Regions from separate parts of the Homo sapiens genome. Here regions 1, 2 and 3 are each linked to region 4. The links come from fine-mapping of genetic effects on plasma protein levels. A gene starts in region 4. Each other region holds a variant in brackets. All regions are shown on one strand. Distances are between the middles of the regions. Region 1 overlaps CD101 (CD101 molecule). Region 2 overlaps CD101 (CD101 molecule). Region 3 overlaps CD101 (CD101 molecule). Region 4 holds the start of CD101 (CD101 molecule).

Region 1 (5,150 bases), 18 kb after region 4:
AAAGAGAGACCGTATCTCTACAGAAAATTTAAAAATTAGCCAGCATGTTGGCACGTGCCTGTAGTCCCAGCTACTGAGGCACGAGGCAGGAGAATTGCTTGAGCCAAGGAGTTTGAGGTTGCAGTGAGTTAAGATCACAGTGCTGTGTTCTAGCCTGCACAACAGAGCAAGACCCAGTCTTTAGAAATAAATAAATTGTTTAAGGGTGAATACATCCTCCGATATTCTTTCTGCTATCTTGTTTCCACTATTTAAGGTTTGGCAAATCTTTTGCCTGAGGGTGGTGCAAGAGGAAACAGCCCAATTTGACTTGTCACAAACTAGTCAAGTCCTAATTAATGAAATTTCACTGTATTTTAGAACATTTCTTATTTACCTAAAACAGTTTTGTTCTTCTATAATCTGTAACTCACAGCAAGAAGTGTGGTCATGTCTACCAAGAACAAGCAGCAAGTTGTGTGGGAAGGAGAGACACTCGCCTTTCTCTGTAAGGCTGGTGGAGCTGAAAGTCCCCTGTCTGTGAGCTGGTGGCACATCCCACGGGACCAGACACAGCCCGAGTTTGTGGCTGGCATGGGGCAGGATGGCATTGTGCAGCTGGGTGCCTCCTATGGGGTACCCAGTTACCATGGCAACACAAGGCTGGAGAAAATGGACTGGGCCACCTTCCAGCTGGAGATCACCTTCACTGCCATCACAGACAGTGGCACATATGAGTGCAGAGTATCTGAGAAGTCTCGGAACCAGGCCAGAGATCTGAGCTGGACTCAGAAGATTTCAGTTACTGTAAAGTCTCTGGGTAAGTGTCAAAGGAAGTCCTTTTCTGCACCTGTATATCACTCAATTCATTCTGCAGTGGAACTGGATTGCGTGTTATCCTGAATCCCCCAGTGATGGTATGTGTACCCTAGGACACAGAGCTAGTCTCTGGCTACCCTCTCTGTCAATTAATCTTTAAAGATTCTTCATTTTTGTAAAGATCATCTTTAGAGTGCAACTTGTAAATTGTTGTTCAAGGTTAAAAACAAAATCCTATGGATCAGCTTATAGACGAGTATAGCTGAGCCTCTTACCTTCTGGCTTTTGACAGCTGTGGCCCTGGGATTGCAGAGCCCATTGAAGCATGTGCAAAAGGGTTCTGATACTGAACCCACGCATGGGGGTAAGGGAAGGAGGCCAGACGACTAGGGTGGGGAGTGCTCCACCCACTCAGCAGCAGCTGTCTAAGTAGCAGATTGGAGAAACACTGCCTATTTGTTGTGGCTGCTGGGAACAGTCTTAGAAAAGGATCAACTTTGCAAAATTGAGGTCACAGTTCAGGACAGACTGTACTGGGAATCAATTTCTACTCTATAAAATAGGAAACTCCAAATGTACAAATGCATGGTCCTAGTCAAAGAGGTGGCAACTAGAAAAACTTGAAAGTGCTATATTTTAATCTGGTAAATATATTAGAAATTCTGTTTCATTTTTCTGTCTAGAGTCAAGTTTACAAGTTAGTCTGATGAGCCGTCAGCCGCAAGTGATGTTAACCAACACCTTTGACCTGTCCTGTGTCGTGAGGGCCGGTTACTCTGACCTCAAGGTGCCACTCACTGTGACGTGGCAGTTCCAGCCAGCTAGCTCTCACATCTTCCACCAGCTTATTCGAATCACCCACAATGGCACTATTGAATGGGGGAATTTCCTATCCCGGTTCCAAAAGAAGACGAAAGTGTCGCAGTCTTTATTTCGTTCACAACTCCTAGTCCATGATGCCACTGAGGAAGAGACAGGAGTGTATCAGTGTGAAGTAGAAGTTTATGACAGAAATTCCCTATACAACAACCGCCCCCCGAGGGCTTCTGCCATCTCTCACCCACTGAGGATAGCCGTCACTTTACCAGGTAAGTGTGACTTGAAATTAATCCCTGTTTTAAAAACAAACAAATAGCAATCCTCCCATTTTGGGTAAGTTATAACAATAAAACATAAAATACTTTCTCCCATATTTGTTCTATCTAAGTAAGCACCACATGATGAATGATACCCAGGTTAACATTGAGTTAGTATGCATGGGTTGGCCATACTGGTTGTTAAAACATTGAAATACCTTCCATGCTGGCTAATTGCTGCTCTCTACCCATTCCCCATTTTCCCCTAAGTTCCCACCACCCAGCAACTAAAGGGTACCACGTGGCACAGCAGGGGGCCTCTAGGACCTGGCTAGAGGGGAGAAGAAATGTTTTGGATTAGTCACTGTCCAGGCCTTACCAGTTAGTAAACATTTGCAGTGTCTCTGCTAGTGGTAGGGATAAGGTAAATTCCACTGGAATACATCCACCTACTTCTTTGTAAGGTGTTAATGTATAAGAGTCAGAGAATTTATTATTACAATCAAATATAATCCATCTCATCAACTGATAATAGAGCATAGGAGTTAAAAGTGAGATACTACCTAGGCAAAGTTCTGCTGTGTCATGTATCTTCTCTCTTATAGTTTGCATTCTCTTAGGAA[G/T]AGTGATGGAGAGACGTTGGAGTCATTTAGATCTGACAGTCACTGGATAGCAGAACAGCTTTGGATGAGACACTTAATCTGCTGAAGCCTTAGTTACCTGATCTGTAAATTGTTAATGTGCAATTTAAATATGGTGACATATATAACATGCCGAGTACCTGACACACCAAGATGACGCTCAAACGTGGTCACTGTCATTATTCTCTCTGCTGCTGTGCAACATTTTTGGTAATAGTAATGATCCCCTTGTTCATGAATTCATGCTTAATTAATTTGTCCTCTCTGTGGTATTTGCAATTGCTGCCCCAATCTGTCTTCTTGAAACTTCTTTTTTCCTTGGCACCATGACACAAGATTTTCATTTTCTCCTCCACTGATTTATTCTTTAAAGAAAACAGTTTCTCTGGATTCTATTCTTAGCTTTGTTCTCTTTTCATTCTATACGCTCTCCTGCAGTGGACTCGTCCCTACCCATGGATACAAGCTGTATGTTCACAACTCCCACATTCATTATCTTGACCAATTTCTCTTCTGATCTCCAGACTCGTATATCCAGCTGTCTCCAAGACATGCCTGCACTCATTATGTCAAAACATAAACCCACCATTATCATCCAAAGCTCTTTCTTCTGCATTGCCCCTTATGTCCCCACTCCTCACCAGTGACCCAAGTTGAAAACCTGAGTCATCACAACTCTTATGTTCACCTTGTATCTAAACTCCCACAGTGTGACATGCAAGGTCCTTTATCATCTGGTACATTTGTGTCTTTCCAGCATCATCTCCTTCAACTTTCCATCGTGAATTTGAGCTTCAGCCACACTGAATTACTGGCAGCTCCTCAATTGTCCATGTTCCCTCTCACTCTCAAAGTCTTTGATCTAGTTGCATCTTTTGTGTGGCAATCCTTAACCTCTTCTCCATCGGAATAATTCCTATAAACCCTTAAGACTCAGCTCAGAATTATCTCCTCCAGGAAGTCTCCCCTCACTCCTGTATTTGGGCTAGGAGACCCTGCTGTGTGCTCAGATAGGCACTTCTATATACCTCTGTCTTACATGAGGGACATGAGGAACAAAAATTTTACACTGAGGCCAGGTGTGGTGGCTCACACCTGTAATCCCACACTTTGGGAGGCCAAGGCGGGCAGATCACCTGAAGTCAGGAGTTTGAGACCAGCCTGGCCAACATAGTGAAACCCCGTCTCTACTGAAAATGCACAGATTAGCCAGGCATGGTGGCGTGCACCTGTAGTCCCAGCTACTCAGGAGGCTGAGGCACAAGGATCGCTTGAGCACAGGAAGTGGAGGTTGCAGTGAGCCAAGATCATGCCACTGCACTCCAGCCTGGGCGACAGAGCAAGACTCCATCTCAAACAAAACAAAACAACCAAAAATCTCACACTTGAGAAAGGTTTCTCAAGAGTTATTTCAGCTGCACATTCTAAATGTGGAAGACAGTGATCAGGGCAAATATCACTGTGCTGTGGTAGAATGGCTCTTTGTCTACAAATGGCACTTGGCACCATCTCTAAGCCTCTGTCCCTGCACTTGTCTCCCTCTAGAGTGTGAGCCACTGAGGGAAGATATCCACAGGGCCTGGAATTGTCTGGCACATAATATAGTGTGTGCTTCATAAATATTTGTTGAAGGAAGAGTAAAGGGACCTATGGGCAACATCAATAAGCAGTTAAAAAAGTAGAGTGGGTGATGTCAGCAAGATGCTAGAAGAAGATTTGGGAACAAGGATTGTCACTCATCTTTCTGACAAAGCAGAAAAGCTGCTGGGGTCAAAGATTAGTTGGCTCCATATCTATACAATGTTCCCACAGTTAAGTGACTGCAAAGACACACACAGTTTTAATCACTCATGTACAACTTCCTTTTGTTTACCCACGTTTGAAGGCAGATACAACTAGAGTTTGGAAATTGTGAATCCAGAAGTACTCTGCATAGTAAACACACAAACACAGCATTAATAGGGCCACTTTCTCCCAATCTGATACATGAAATATGACAGAAGAGATGCTTGTGCTTAAATACCGAAGCAGTATCATGTGGAAGAGAGATACTGGGCTTGTCTGTGTGACACTCCCTCTGCCACACCACCCCTACCAAGCACAGGTAGCACTAGGACTAGTGGATGGAAGTTATGAAGAGATAAAGTTCAACTTGATATCAGAAAGCATTCTGGAGGGGCAGAGCTGTCCAGAGATGAAATGGGCTGCCTTGTCAGCTAGTGATGCTGTTCAAAAGCTGTATGAGCAGTGAGTGGGGCTACTGTAGAGGGAGTTCACCCATATGATGGCGGGAGGATGCAGTGTCATACTTGACCTCTAATGTCTCTACTACCTTAACTTTCTATTTCATAGCAAAGTAACTGTTTCATTTTTTTAAATTTAGAGAGCAAGCTAAAAGTGAATTCAAGGAGTCAAGTCCAAGAGCTCTCCATCAACTCCAACACTGATATAGAATGTAGCATCTTGTCCCGGTCCAATGGAAACCTTCAGTTAGCCATTATTTGGTATTTTTCTCCTGTTTCCACTAATGCCTCTTGGCTAAAGATCCTGGAGATGGACCAAACCAATGTTATAAAAACTGGGGATGAGTTTCACACCCCACAGAGAAAACAAAAATTTCATACTGAGAAGGTTT
Region 2 (5,134 bases), 32 kb after region 4:
TCACACCTCTTTTCTTCTGAAGTCAGTGTCTCTGAGGAAATATCAAAAAGGAGTGCTCCTTTTGCTGTGCTTGGCTGTGGGTGGAAGCACGTTCTAAACTAAGCCTCATGATGAAGTGCTCTCATTACATTTTTGGCTTTGTTTTGAAGACCTTGTACTTTGAGCATTGGGCACTTACTTAGATTGATCAAAATGCCAAACCTTAATGGTTTGAATGTCACTAATTCTAATCCAGATATGGGTGAGAGGCAGATGGTGGGAAATGGTGACTGTGGGATGCAGAGCAAACACTGGCCTCCCAGGAGAGGTGATTTAACAGCACAGGCACTAACAGTTGCTAGCTGTTGGCCACTTCAGCATGGTAAGGGGCACACCTTGCCATCCTTTGATGGCAGATTGCACTAAGCTGGGCAGCCTCTTCCCCACCAAGATAGCCAAGCCCTCTGGCTGTTCCTTCATGCTGAAAAGCAGAGTAGCAGATTTATTTCCACCTCCTGTGTAGTGGCCCCATCTCGCCATCATTACCCCACCATTCTAGCAACTGTAATACCTGGTGCTGTGGACTCTAACCTCACAATTCTCTGCCTCCCATGAGTAGAAAAGGAAGCCAGGGCCTCCTAAGTAATCATTTCAGTCTTTGCTGAATGTCACCCAGGTCTGAGGACAGGGGGACTAGAGATGTAAGGGAGAGAGAGCCTGTGGAGGAAGATGGCCAAGCCTGGGGTCCCTGTGGGAGAGATATCTGTAGGCTCCAGCCCTGTTCTCTGTCTGTTCTCTTGGGAGAAGGTTTCCTGTGATTTTCTTAGCTTTCTCAGTAGCATTCTAGCTAATATTTATTGCTTGCTGACTCCACAAATGCTTTAGGCACTTCGTTAGATGCTTTATTATACATTATCTCATCACAACTCTAGAAATTGTTATCCCTATTTGGTTGATGAGGAAACTAATGATTAAGAGAGGATAAGTAACTTATCCAATGTCAATAACAGCACATTGAAGATTGAGGATTTGAACTCAGCTCTCTTTGAAACACAGTAGGTGCTCATTCACTACTCTGCACAAATGCTCACAGCCAGTGCTTATAATACCTGGACTCCATGGCTCCATTCACTTGCATCATTGCAGTCTATGCTTCCTTCTAGCCACGGGCCTTCAAATGTACTCAGATAAGACCGGGGGAGAATAACTGTAGTCAAGCAGGGTCATTGGAAGAGGGGTCAGATAGGATGTGGAGCAGAGGGATGGTAAAGAATTCAAAACCTAACTTTATCATTGCTCACCATTTCAAAAAACAAAACTAAATTTAGGATGAAGGATACAAATGAGATCAGAGAAAATCCAGGCCATGAACCTCTGCTGCTCTTTGCCAGCCCCATTCAGAGCTGCCAGCCTAATGTTCAGTGATGATCTGTACTTTGTATAGCATGATGGCAGCCATCCCTGGGTTCCCATGTGTGGAATGTACTCATGCAATTGATTCATTCATCAGGCTCCATTGAGACCCTGTGAACAAAGAGTTGAGGAAGATAAAAAGACACACAAGACACAGGCCCTACCCTCAAGGAGCTCACAGTGCAGGAGGTGAGCGAATGTCTAGATTCTTTCTTGACTATCATCAAAGAGATGTTCTTTAACATGTAGGATTCGTCGGCAATGCCAAAAATGGAATTCTTGCAGCAGGAGGTTGGTCAAAATGACCTCTAAACCTCTTTCATCTCTAAGCATCCATAATCCCATGAATCCTGTAGCTTAACCTTTGAAGAAGAAATTGCTTATGTCATTACAATTTTCCAGTAAAAGCACAGCTACAGTTAGCATTGAATATTTCAGAACAGCCCTGATTTCAGATATCATGTCATAAATAAATGTAATTGGAAGACTACATTTAGTAATTGGTCTCTTTAAGCATGTGTCTTTCTGCTTCAATAGACTGTTTCCTGAAACCTGTGGTGTTTGCAGTCCTCTGGGCCTTTGCTTTCCTGGCCGTGTGGCCAGGAGCCACTTTGGGGCTGCTTGTGCGTGCTCTGCGTGTGTATCTGCTGATTGATAGTGCTTCCCGGCGGACTGCAGCTGCGGGATGATCATATGCTTCAGCATGCCTTTATATAGTATCTTTTGCCCATGTGGTTGCAGTCAATCCAATTTAATTCAGATCAGCAAAAGTTACTGAGCACATGTGCTAGGCACTGTAGGGGATATAGAAACAAATGGCACTATCAGACATACTCAAGTAACTATAGTGAACAAAGGAGACGAGTAAAAGGGAATTAAAGAGGCCTAAACAAAGGGCTGAGTGAGAACGGGATGGAAGAGAAGAACTGTGCCTGCAGCAAGGTAGGAAGAGCTGAGAGAGTAGGAAGTGTGATGGAGCTAGGCCAGAAGGACCTAGAGGCTCAGATGCATGGAGCATGTCAGGTGGTGGCCACAGCCAGAGCAACACAGGAAAGGAGTGGGAGGGAGGGGGCCGGGGAAGGAGGAGACCCACAGGGAGGGCCAGGCTTGGGTCAGCGGGGGTAGGGGCTTCTTATTGTGGGTGTGATTGTTTTATAAGGACAGTGCAGAGTGCAGGGCAGAGTGTGTGTGTATGTGTGTGTGAGAAAGAGTGTGTGCCTGTGTGTTGGAGGAGCAGCAGTGGGAATAACTCAGTTAAAAATTCAGGACTGGCAACACTGTTGAGAACGAGGGTTGAATTATAGATATCTTTTCTGAAGAAAGAAGATTAAAGGAGAGGTTTTCTTTTTTGTTTTGTTTTTCATTTTGGCTGTTAGTTTTAAGTAGGTCATTGGAACCTCCAGTGGTTGGAAATCGCAGGGCAAGGGGCTGTTGCATTAGAAGAGCCTGTTCCAGGAGCTCTCTTCCCCCAGTGCTCTGTCCTGTGCTCCTCATGATTTCAGGGGCCCACTGCTATTTGGCCCCATTATTTTTACATATACTTGCCTATAACAATAAATCCCAGGAGTGTTTGTAATTGACTAGTACAAATAAGTTGGAGATGAATTACTCTCTTGTTTCTCCCTTCGTTGCAGAGCCCACGCTTCCTTCCAGGATCTGCTCCTCGGCCCCTTT[A/T]CTCTATTTCCTGTTCATCTGTCCCTTCGTCCTGCTCCTCCTTCTGCTCATCTCCCTCCTCTGCTTATACTGGAAGGCCAGGAAGTTGTCAACACTGCGTTCCAACACACGGAAAGAAAAAGCTCTCTGGGTGGACTTGAAAGAGGCTGGAGGTGTGACCACAAATAGGAGGGAAGACGAGGAGGAAGATGAAGGCAACTGAATCCCAAGAGGCACCTGCAGCCAGGAAGGAAAGGTGGGGGCTTTTTAATTGGGCTAACCAGGGTGTGAATGAATCCTGGTTCTGTCCTCAACTATGTCTGCGGCCTTGGGCAAGTTACCTAGGAATCAGAGGGAGCATTCACTGAGTGCTTATTGGTTCTACGCACTGTTAGGTGTTCCTTTGTGTCTTACCTCATCCACCTCTCGCATCCCCCCTTGGAACAAGATAGCATCATTACCCTACATCTCTTGAAGGTTCAGGTCCCTGGGCTGCAAGGAGATAAGAGGCTCCCTCACACAGCCTCTGGAGGGCTAAATGAGATCCTACAGCAATGCCCTGGTGGGGCTTCTCTCTCCCTCTTATGTCACTTGTCACACCTGCTCTAGGTAATCATTTTCCTCCAGATGAGAGGTGTAGGAAAGGACCTGATGCCAGCAAGGAAAAAGGAATTGGTAACATGCTCTTTGTTTACCTAAAATCTGTCCCCACAACAAGAATGTAACTTCCTTCGAGGCAGAAATTCAATTTTCTTCTCCCAGCCCACCTACAAAGGCCCACTCAAGAGCAAGTTCTGTGTAAAGGTGCTTAACTAATACAGGTTCTTTGACAAAATGATAAAACATTTGTAACCTGAGTTTGGGGCTTTTTGTTTATTGTTTGATAAGACTTTTTATTAAGTAATTGCTGAGCAAAAACTTTGTAAAAACTCATGTAACAGTACTCCAGTCAGCCCCCCAAGGCCTCGTACCCCTGCTTCCCCCTACACCTCCATATCCCCACCAAAAGGTCCATCTGGCTCCTGGTGCTCAGCCAGTGCCTTATTTTCTTTGACCTGACAGCACTGGGTGGTAGGGAAGGTATTGTCTGGAGGAGCAGGGTTGACAGTGCCACCGTTCCCTCATACGCCTGCAGGGCTGGGGTTTGGGGCAGCAGTAGGTCAAGTCTGGTTCCTCAAGGTCTCCTATTCTCAGTAGCAAAAAGCAGCCGGTGGGGGTGGGGTGTAATGGCTTAAAGCTTTCAACAGCTGTCCCCACTGGGCCTACAGTCCCCTCATCTTTGTTTCAAAAGCCGCTCAGGCCCTGTTGTAGCCAGAATTGGAAATCAATCAGTGCCACCTAAAGACTTGAGAAAACACATCTATTTATTATCTATGTGACCAACCGAGTTGCTTTAACACTCGTTAATTTGCATTTCCAAGGAGAGCAATTTAGTTTTAATTATTTGATCAGGCACACACGTCCTCTCCAAACATAATTAGTTCCTTCCTAAGGGGATTATTGGTGGCTATGAGCACTCCTACTATGGACCTACCAGTTCCTTAAACTCATGTCCCTTCATAGCCTGATTTAAAATACTCCAAATCTTTCCTTAAACATGTCAGCACATTTGTTTCTTGTCATCCAGGTAAGGGAGCATATTTTTACAAACAACAAAGCTGAAATGAAGACTTTTTTTTTTTTTTTTTTGAGATGAAGTCTCGCTCTGTCGCCCGGGCTGGAGTGCAGTGGTGTGACCTGGGCTCACTGCAAGCTCCGCCTCCCGGGTTCACGCCATCCTCCTGCCTCAGCCTCCCAAGTAGCTGGGACTACAGGCACCCGCCACCATGCCTGGCTAATTTTTTTTTGTATTTTTAGTAGAGACGGGGTTTCACCGTGTTAGCCAGGATGGTCTCGATCTCCTGACTTCATGATCCACCCGCCTCGGCCTCCCAAAGTGCTGGGATTACAGGCGTGAGCCACCACGCCCGGCAGAAGACTCTTAGAAAGTGTGATGACCCCCTGCCCCTATTTTTTAGAAACCTGTATTTTAATTCAAAGGGAAAGAGAGCAGAAGTGAGCCTGGGCAGAGAATCTTGGATGGACTCTG
Region 3 (5,150 bases), 11 kb after region 4:
TTTTGGAGATATGTCACAAGTGGGTATCTCATATTCTCTAAAATTATCTGTTTCTTTTTCTCAATTATCTTTGCCATAAATATTTAGATGGTGTGTGGTTTTCCCAAGGCCTTGTCCGCAGCTCTCCATAGGTTGCTAGTAGCAACAGCATTCAACAAAGCTGTGAGAGTTCTCCCTGTGTTGTCTCTGCTTGCAGGCAGAACAGTAATTTGACAAGAAAGCTGGTACCATAGGTGATAAGTCATTAACTTAGAAATGATAATTCTCAAACTACCATTCTCTAGCATATTTACACATTGGGAAAGGGTGATAGTCCTTGCAATTGTCACTTTGTCCCTTTGTCTGGAATATCTATCACCCCCTTTTCAGCTTAACAAACTCCTACATATACTTCAGGACCCAGTTTAGATATTACCTCTTCTGTGGAACTCATCTTGACTGCTTGGGCAGAATTCCCACTTTTGTTTCCTTTAGATTGTTCATACCACTGCTCTCAGCATGTATCCAGTTACATGGTAATTGGCTATTTGTATGCCTCTTTCCCACCACATCCTCAGCTTCTACTCAGTGGCTAGCACCGAGTAGACGCTCAGTCACATTCATTGATTAAATCTAAGTGTTGCTTTCATATAAGCTTAGGCTGTGTGATTTCATTTTAGGAAAACAAGAATGGTAGGGTAGTAAGATGGTTACCAAAACTTTAGTAAAGATTGCATTTGGGCTCTAAATGATACATTTTAACAGCCATTATTACATTATTAGATTATTACACAGCCTTATAGAGGAGCAGGTTAAGGCCCAGGGAGGTGAAGTGACATGCCCAAGTCCACGTAGTAGGGATGGATTTAGGATCAGAATCTAAGGTTTCTCTGTCCCAGTGCTTTCTCCCTTTAAATACATGCTTTGTGTCTGAGTAGCTAAATTGGTTATAGCCTATGTTAATAAAGCAAAGTGAGGGTCAACACATTGATGAGGCATTTACTTTGCCCAGTTCCGTAGACTGTACCTAGATGCCAATGTTCCCAATGGCAATAGAGAAAGCATATGGATAGGAAAGCATATGGCAAGTGGAAAACCAACTCAAAGTCTGTGTGCTTTACATAGGGTAGCTCAGGGCGCCATCTAAGGAGGCCCACTGGACAAGCACTGGGCCAGTCACATTATTATCATTCCTTTGTTTCCAGTTATTCCAGATACCCTCTCTGCCACCATGAGTTCTCAGACTCTCGGTAAGGAGGAAGGTGAGCCATTAGCCCTCACCTGTGAGGCATCCAAAGCCACAGCCCAACATACTCACCTCTCTGTCACCTGGTACCTAACACAGGATGGAGGAGGAAGCCAAGCCACTGAGATTATTTCTCTCTCCAAAGATTTTATATTGGTCCCTGGGCCCTTGTATACAGAGCGGTTTGCAGCCAGTGACGTACAGCTCAACAAACTGGGACCCACTACATTCAGGCTGTCCATAGAGAGGCTCCAGTCCTCAGATCAGGGTCAGCTGTTCTGTGAGGCAACGGAATGGATTCAGGATCCAGATGAAACTTGGATGTTCATCACCAAAAAGCAGACCGATCAAACCACTCTGAGGATCCAGCCAGCAGGTAATTATCTTCCTACGAAATTCATTAATACACTAGTATTAGGTAGTGGGTATTTATGAGGTATGTTTTAATTTTTGTTCTAATCTTTTGTTGGCTCTAAAAAATTGGCTAGAAAGTTTGATTTAATTTTGTATTTTTGTCATCTGAGAAGCATAACTAAGAGGGAGCACATTCAGTTCTGGCTCTGCCCACGGATTCTTTATGGGATAAGGTCTACTGAGTGGCTAGATCGATTCCACAAGCCAGTCATGGAAGTAGTTTTGTTACCATTTTTGCCAGTCTCTGTTCACACATTATCTACATTATCTAATTTAGTCGTAACCACCACCCTATGAGGCAAGTAGTTGAGTCTCCATTTTAAAAATGAGGACTCTGAACTTCAGACATGCTAGATGCGCTGCCTAAGCCCACCCAGCTGGTGAGAGTGGGGCTGGCATTCAAAGGGAGGCCTGTCTCTCTCCAAAGCCCACTCAGCACAGACAGCTGGGCCTCAAAGTAGCTCCAGTTTCCAACATGAAGCCTTGTCTTCGTCAGTGCTGGGGTTTCCTTCCACCTGCCCCCTTTCCCAACTTGGAATGCAGTGACTTTGCTTTTTTATTATTTTTTTAATTTTTAAATTTTTTTAAGGACAGGATCTTGCTATGTTCCCCAGGCTGGCCTTGAACTCCGGGGCTCAAGCAATCCTCCTGCCTTGGCCTCCCAAAGGGCTGGGATTTCAGGCGTGAGCCACCGCACCCAGCCTGCTGTTACTTTTCATAATCTTTTGGCATTTTTGTCAAAGCAAGTATAAAGGCCTTGTCTGTGATTCCTGGTCTCTATAGGCTTTTGTCCAACAGGAAGTGGTTGCTAAACCATATACTGTATATGCATTGCTAAAAGCAATGA[T/C]CCAATAGTGGATCATTAAAGTTTTTTCTTTATTAAAAACAGTATTATTGTGTTCCACTAAAAATTGTCCTGTTGGCCTCAAGTATCCAAGTTATACTCATGAGTCCTATGGAGCGATATCACATGTGCTTTTTAACTTCAGAAAATTCTGCTGGATATTCTTAGCCAAAAAAGAGAGTAAGAAATCACAATTTACAGCAATTTAGTGTAAAATATTTAATATATATATTTAATTCAGTATACAATATTTTATTTTTTAATTTAAAAAGCATACATTACTATATGTGTCATACATTTGTGCATACATCTTGCTTACTAAGAGTGCATTCAGAAAACCATGTGTACTGTCCTTTCTGGGTGATTTAAGGAAGAGTCATGAGCGTTTTTTACTCTAAGGATTTTGTTTTTTTTGGGTTTACCTACCGCTATAGAATTGAACTCCCACATAAAATGTGATCCCTGTGACATCCTTACAGAGGGTGTCATCTCTCTCTGGTACTGAAAGGACAGAGGCTGTGGGCTCTCTAAATACCTGCCTTGCTTTTGTTTCCCAGTGAAAGATTTTCAAGTCAACATTACAGCTGACAGCTTGTTTGCTGAAGGGAAACCCTTAGAACTGGTTTGCCTGGTTGTAAGCAGTGGCCGTGACCCACAGCTTCAAGGCATTTGGTTCTTCAATGGGACTGAAATTGCTCACATTGATGCTGGTGGAGTCCTGGGCCTGAAGAATGACTACAAAGAGAGAGCAAGTCAAGGAGAGCTCCAGGTTTCAAAGTTAGGCCCCAAGGCTTTCTCTCTCAAGATCTTCTCTCTGGGCCCAGAGGATGAAGGCGCCTACAGATGTGTGGTAGCAGAGGTCATGAAAACACGCACAGGTTCCTGGCAGGTGCTTCAGAGAAAGCAGTCACCAGACAGCCACGTGCACCTGAGGAAGCCAGCAGGTACGTAAAGTCAAGGCCAGGCATGCATTGGGCTGCTTTCAGATGCCCCCTTGTCAGTGGAAGACCCCTTCGTGGATACAATGGGGATCTTCATGAAGAGCAGGTTTCAATCAGATCACATTGGAGGTGGAGTGGAGTGGAGTAAAGGAAGGCACCCAAACTAGCTGAAGACCCGAGTCCTATTCCTGAGTCATTAAGTAGTCTGTGACCATGAACACACCACTTTACGTCTCTAAGTCTCAGCTCCTTCATCTGTAAAATGATGGCACACAACTAGATGGTCTTTAAGTTCCTTCTTGCTATCTTAGAGTCTATTTATTTTTTGTTCTAATTTTTATGTATTAGATATTTCTTAAAGCAGAGAACATGTGTATTAATGAAGCCCTCTGCCTTTGTGTGTGTGTGTGTGTGTGTGTGTGTGTGTGTGTGTGTGTGTGATATGAATAGGTTAAGAGTAAAAAGCTACACTTTGTCCTCCTTCCTGAGGAATGAACACCCGTGTTATCCTACCTTGAGACCCTGCCGGCATTTTTCAGTTGCCTTCTGTTAGTCTCCTACTATGTTGACCTGGTGTGGGAAATAGTACTTAGTCATAATTCTGACTCACAGTAAGAAATGAAGAGGTAATTGATAGTGGGCAGACTCCATCCTCTGCATTTTGCTGTGATGTGGTGAGACGCCGGTCCAAATGGTTCTGAATGTCTGCATGCACGGAACTGAGGAAGCCACTCAGCTCACCTTTACTTTATGAAGGTTGGGTGACCTTAAACATGTTTGAATAATCAGTGCCTTTTGTGAAGAAAAACAGACATATCTGCAACTAATATAAGGATTCACTAGGCTGGGTTTAAATTCAAAGTCCAGAAAGATTAATTGCCCAAAAAAAATTTTTTTTAATGTTTTAAATTTTTAAAAACTGAGCTAAAAATAAAGGTGTCCTTGTTGCACTGGCTCATTGGAGACATCTCCAAAGATAGATAAATTTTCCTTTCATGTTCTCCAATATGCCATTTACTAGGAATGAAGATGCACCGATTTGGCCTTGAGTGGCAGGCCAGGAAGTGTGTTGGTGTTCGTTTTCACACTAAACATTTGGTCTGACTTTCTAGAATTAAGGAAAAACAATATAGGTGAGTTCACATATTTATGCAGAGATAAGTTTCTGCTTTATGCATCTCAGCCTTCTCTGGAACATATCTGCAGGCTTTTGTAAACCTGGTATGTGGGAATTTCACCTGAAGGGGAACTTCAGGGTACACAGCTGATAATCCTATCAATAGGGTCATCTTCTAAAACTAAAAATAGTTCTTTGTATAGGCTGGAGTCTACACTGGGCTTACTATGTAGACACAGAAAAAGTTATTAGCAAATTTATTAAGGATCCTGTTTAGCATTCTGTTTTGAAAGTCAAACGTTACTTGAAGTATTAGCAACATTTTATCATTTATGAATATTTTAATCACTCATTACCATTGTGAATGTGTAACTTGCACACATTTCATAAGTTTATTACTTCTTACCAAAAGGCAGTAATGGCCACAATGAACTAAGGAAACATCATTTAAAAAAAAAATCATTAGTTTAAACTAATCATCATGGTTATGTTAAAGTGGTGAATTTCCCCTCCAATTTTGAAACTTCAGTTATGAGTCTATTTTTAACTTGAAAAAAACTAAATTTGAAAGCAGATTTGCTCTTTTTAAAAACATATTTATGGACATTA
Region 4 (5,150 bases):
TTACTGCACAGGGAGTATTCCGTAACTATTTGATTATTTTATCTATCCCACCTCTGTCTTTATTTATTTATTTATTTTGAGATGGAGTCTCGCCCTGTCGCCCAGGCTGGAGTGCAGTGGCGTGATCTTGGCTCACTGCAAGCTCCGCCTCCTGGCTTCATGCCATTCTCTTGCCTCAGCCTCCCCAGTAGCTGGGACTACAGGCGCCCACCACCACACCCAGCTATTTTTTTGTATTTTTAGTAGAGACGGGGCTTCACCATGTTAGCCAGGATGGTCTCGATCTCCTGACCTCGTGATCCGCCCGCTTCTGCCACCTAAAGTGCTGGGATTACAGGCATGAGCCACTGCGCCCGGCCTCTGTCTTTATTTTAAATGCCCTACTTCAGGCCCTTATTATTGCTCATAGAGACAACTACAAAAACCTTGTAACTGACCTTCTTGCTTCTAGCCTTGTCTCCCTTCTTCACCTTTCAACCTGTTAGCAATGCACACATACAGAATTCAACTTAAAAGGAAAAACGGAAAATCCAACCAGGCTATACTACCACTAAAAATCTTCATAGCTTCCCTCTTCTTTGAGGTATTAATAAAAGCCAAGCTCTTAGGCTTGGCACACGAAGCCCACTAAGATCTGCCCATCCTACCTGTATAGATCCTTCTTTCACAACAACCTCAAACTTCATTCCAACAAGATAGTACAGCCTGTGTGTTACTATTCATGCCACACGGTTTTTCCCCAACTGTACCTTGGCCCCCTGCCTCTCTAGATGACTCATTGACTCACCTGGCCCAGCCCAATCCATCTTGACCTTCCCTCCTGCCTACCAATTTTCCCCACCCCCTATAGGTGCCCCACTGATTGTTGACACATTGCATTGTGATTATCTGATTTAAGTGGAAGCTTCCTGAGAACTCTAGCACTAGCGTAGTATTAGTCTAGGTTCAGGGCCAACTGTTGCATTTAGATACTCCTCTGCCATCCTTGATACCTGGGTTCACATCGGTGTAACTGCCCATTAGCGTAACTGCCCAACAGGTTTCTCCTTGCCTGCTGCCCAGATAGAACAGACTTATCAAGACAGGAGAATTGCAATAGAGAAAGAGTTTAATTCACACAGAACCAGCTAAATGGGAAACCAGAGTTTTATTACTCAAATCAGTCTCCCCGGAAATTCAGAGACTGGAGTTAGTAAGGATAATTTGGCAGGCCAGGGAGTGGGGAGTGCTGATTGGTCAGGTAGGAGATGAAATCACAGGGGATCAAAGGGGGTTCTTGCAGTCTTCCGTTCCTAAGTGGGATCAAAGAACTGGTGGAACCAGATCACCAGCCTGGATGGTGTCAGCTGGTGCATCAGGATGCAGGGTCTGAAAAATACCTTGAGCACCAATTTAGGTTTTACAATAGTGATGTTATCCCTAGGAACAGTTGGGGAGGTTGGAATTGTGTGGCCTCTGGCTGCATGACTCCTAAACCATAATTTCTAATGTTGTGGCTAATTTGTTAGTCTTACTAGGGAAGTCTGCTCCCCAGGCAAGAAGGGGGTTTGTTTCCAGAAAGGGCTGTTATCCTCTTTGTTTCAAAATTAAACTAAGCTAAATTCCTCCCAAAGTTAGTTTGGCCTACAACCAGGAATTAACAAGGGCAGCTTGGAAGTTAGAAGCAAGATGGAGATGGTGAGGTCAGATCCCTTTCACTGTCATAACTTTCTCACTGTTACAATTTTTGCAAAGGCAGTTTCACAGGGCAGATGAAGATTTACTTAAATGTCTCATGATGGTGATGATGGTAGCTAATATTCATTGAGCAGTTACTATGTACCAGATATTGTTCTAAGTGCTTTAAATAAATTAGCTTGAAACTATCATTCTCAGCAAACTATCTCAAGAACAAAAAACCAAACACTGCATGTTCTCACTCATAGGTGGGAATTGAACAGTGAGAACACTTGGACACAGGAAGGGGAACATCACACACCGGGGCCTGTCATAGGGTCGGGGGAAGGGGGAGGGAAAGCATTAGGAGATATACCTAATGTAAATGACGAGTTAATGGGTGCAGCACACCAACATGGCACATGTATACATATGTAACAAATTTGCACGTTGTGCACATGTACCCTAGAACTTAAAGTATAATAATAATAAAAAAAAGTAAAATACAAAAAAAAAGAAATAAAAAAATAATTAAAAAATTAGCTCATTTGGCATTCACAGTAATCTTACAGGGTACCTACTATTAGTATCCTCATTTTAGCAATGAGGGTTAGGAAAAGTTAATTAAGTTTTCTAAGATTGCACAGTTACTAAAACTAGAATCTGCATGCAAACCCAGGCAGCCTGACTCTAGAGCCTGTAACCTTCAGCACCACCTCATGTCGCCCCAAGTTCATGTTTTTCAGGGGCCTTCTCCCATTTCTCAGTCATTTCCTCTCTCAAGAGAGGAGGAGAAGGAAGGGCCAAGAAGACAACATTGCTGGTGCCTTTTTTATTTATTCAGTTTACCTAAATTCTCTCATCATTACCAAATGACACATACTGTGAGCCAGGTTGAGACCCATCTTTTCTTAGTTTTATCGATATCTGTTTACTTAACCACAAAGATAACTTTTTTACTCCCAAATTTGAGTGATTAGTAAAGAGCTACATAATGTAACCAGTTTTGCTTTTCACAAGACATCTCTATTTCTCAGTGGGCTGAAAACCACACTTTTGCTTCCTCTTTACTTTGCAGTGAGAGCACAGCATTTGTCACTCAACCTCTGAATGTTAGTGACACTATTGGGACGAAAAAGGACTGTGCTGGCCCAAATGGCAGGCATCTCATATGTGGCATCTTTCTTTCTCCTTCTGAGTAAGTTTCATAATCCTTTATGTTTCTCTTGTCACAGGAGTTCATCAACTCAGGGTGCTGAGTGATGGAACAGGACAATTTGGTCTCTACAGGAACAACTATGCCATATATTTCTGATGTTAGCAATAATTTTTGACTTACTAATGACAGTTCTTGGCTTACCTAGACATCCTTGAGTTCCAGGGAGTCACAATGCTTGGTTGAGTCCCATGCACAAGATTCCATTGGTTTTAACATTTGTGTGTGTTGCCAGATCTGTCAGTTTTGCTTGGCCCTGGCTTTACTCATCTTCCTGGGCCGATCATCCCAAGAGACAGTAAAAAAGCTTTGTGTCCCAAACTGAGAGGAGACCTTAAGGTTTGCCTGATATTAAGGCTTGATGGGATAACTATGCCTTGCAGATATGACTGGATGGAAAGAAAGGTTATGAAAGTACTTAGTAGTTTTAGACTATGCTAAAAGAAGGTTCTAGATTTCACCTGCGAGTGGAAGTGGAAATTGACTACTGAGAGACTGAGAAATGAACAGGAAGATTCACTTGGCTCTACTGAGGGCCATGCAGAGGGGCTTGCCTGATCTAGGGGCATTTATCTATGTTTGAATAGGATGGAAGAAGAGAAAATTTGGAGGTAGAAGGGAGAGTCAGATGAGTTGAGCAGGTAATGGAATAGTTTCAAACCAGATAGCAGGTACTTTTTATGCTACAGTTTTCATTAACATCTGGTAAAGAGAATAGACTCCATCTCAGAATAATGTTTAAAATGCATAAAATAAAATGCATAGAATTACAGAGGAAATCAGTCACATTGAAATACAGGTATCAAAATATTTTAAATAAATTATAATGCAGTAATTTATTTGCTTCTTATTTATGCATTACATAACAAAATCTACAGGTAGGTCTTTTAACCACCAAACTTCAAAGTAATGATGAGTATAAATAACATTTCAATATATCTTAAGTAGTTGTAATGTGATATGAAGATATCTGTGGTTGTCTACATACATAACTGAAGAAAATACTAAATTTCCATTAGAGGCAAAAATGAAAATAAAGATGTAAGATTATTTTTCACCCTAGTTTATGGACCCTTTAATCCTACATGTGGACCCAGTTAAGAACTCTTGCTTTATAGCTGGGCATGGTGGCACATACCTGTGGCCCTAGCTACTTGGGAGGCTGAGGTGGGAGAATCGCTTGAACCTGGGAGGTGGAGGTTGCAGTGAGCCAAGATTGAGCCACTGCACTCCAGCCTGGGTGACAGAGTGAGATTCCATCTAAAAAAACAAACAAACAAACAAAACTCTTGCTTTAGAGAGACTGGATGGAGCCAGTGCAGGGACCCGAATGGCTGGGATGATTGGGGAACTAAACCAAGCTGCATTTGGTGTGACCAGGACTATGGCTGAAGAATTAAAAGAAAAGAATACAGCATTCAGCACAAAGAGGTTGCTTAATAAACATTGATTGAGTTGAATTGTGCTCATGTCTCTAGGTACATATGATAGTGTGAGGTTAAGAGTCAGACCTAGGGCCTGCAGGGGAAGTTACTGGGACCACTTGCTGGGTGACGGATGCCTGCCAGACTGGCTTGGCGGGTGTTGATGGATAGGTGCACTGGTGGGATCCTTTGGGGGCTGGTGTGTTTTTGTTGTTTGGTTAAGTTGTCTGAGTGTGATTCTCAAGTGTATGTGCTTTGTGTATTTGAATTCTATGTTTGCTATGTATATAGGAGGAAACTGGGTTTACATTGTGCAATAATTCATAGAATTGCAAATTCTGTCTCTTTTTTTGGTAAGCAGGCTAGAAGCCCTGGGGGAAGGAAAGTAGTAATCAAGGCTCAAAAAGGGGAAGCTGGAAGCTTTTCCTTAACCCATTTAAACAATTACCTAAACTGGGTTATACATTTACTTCTTCTAAATTCTGACTCATCTGAAGCACTAATTTTGTGTAGAAGCACAGTTTTTATGTGAAGAATACATAAATCAGGAAGTTACTGGAAAAAGCTTTAGAAGTCTGCTGTTTGTCCTTACAAATATAGAGGGGAATTGAAATAAATTATTTAAATAACGATCTATTGATCAATTACATTGGTTAGCAAATTTACACTTTGTCCCAATTTTTTTTTAGTAAATATAAGGACTGAACAATCCTGATAGAAAATGGTGCCATATGAGATTAATGTCATGGGTAAATGAGTTCTCGGATTTAGCAGTTAGCTTTGTCTGCTTGATCTATTTCCCCCACCCAAACTAGCTGCCCTACAAATAATGGCCATTAATATGGCAGGGTTTG

Evidence for each region. PIP is the posterior inclusion probability: the model's chance that the variant is causal. The UK Biobank Pharma Proteomics Project read protein levels with antibody pairs (Olink). The fine-mapping took linkage between variants from a reference panel, not from the people measured, so its PIPs are less certain.
Region 1: its variant is fine-mapped to the plasma level of the CD101 protein (UK Biobank, PIP above 0.99).
Region 2: its variant is fine-mapped to the plasma level of the CD101 protein (UK Biobank, PIP above 0.99). The variant lies in the coding sequence of CD101. If it changes the protein, the assay may bind it differently, which can mimic a change of level.
Region 3: its variant is fine-mapped to the plasma level of the CD101 protein (UK Biobank, PIP above 0.99).

Annotation. Positions count from the first base shown.
Region 1 is chr1:117,016,675-117,021,824 of GRCh38, forward strand. It overlaps CD101 (CD101 molecule), which reads left to right. Exons shown (of 10, transcript NM_001256106.3): 5 at 416-799; 6 at 1,482-1,886; 7 at 4,899-5,150. It overlaps LOC124904386 (a long non-coding RNA gene), which reads right to left. Exons shown (of 2, transcript XR_007066499.1): 1 at 2,438-5,150; 2 at 1,419-1,760. Among named protein-coding and RNA genes, the nearest start is that of CD101, 17 kb to the left of the region's middle. RefSeq lists an enhancer at 958-2,157. The variant G/T (reference allele first, on the strand shown) is at 2,498.
Region 2 is chr1:117,030,834-117,035,967 of GRCh38, forward strand. It overlaps CD101 (CD101 molecule), which reads left to right. Exons shown (of 10, transcript NM_001256106.3): 9 at 3,027-3,301. The coding sequence ends at 3,268. It overlaps CD101-AS1 (CD101 antisense RNA 1), which reads right to left. Exons shown (of 4, transcript NR_110786.1): 3 at 1,281-1,503. Among named protein-coding and RNA genes, the nearest start is that of CD101-AS1, 26 kb to the right of the region's middle. The variant A/T (reference allele first, on the strand shown) is at 3,067.
Region 3 is chr1:117,010,366-117,015,515 of GRCh38, forward strand. CD101 (CD101 molecule) reads left to right here. Exons shown (of 10, transcript NM_001256106.3): 3 at 1,185-1,601; 4 at 3,041-3,427. Among named protein-coding and RNA genes, the nearest start is that of CD101, 11 kb to the left of the region's middle. The variant T/C (reference allele first, on the strand shown) is at 2,487.
Region 4 is chr1:116,999,007-117,004,156 of GRCh38, forward strand. It overlaps CD101 (CD101 molecule), which reads left to right and starts at 2,754. Exons shown (of 10, transcript NM_001256106.3): 1 at 2,754-2,854. The coding sequence starts at 2,812.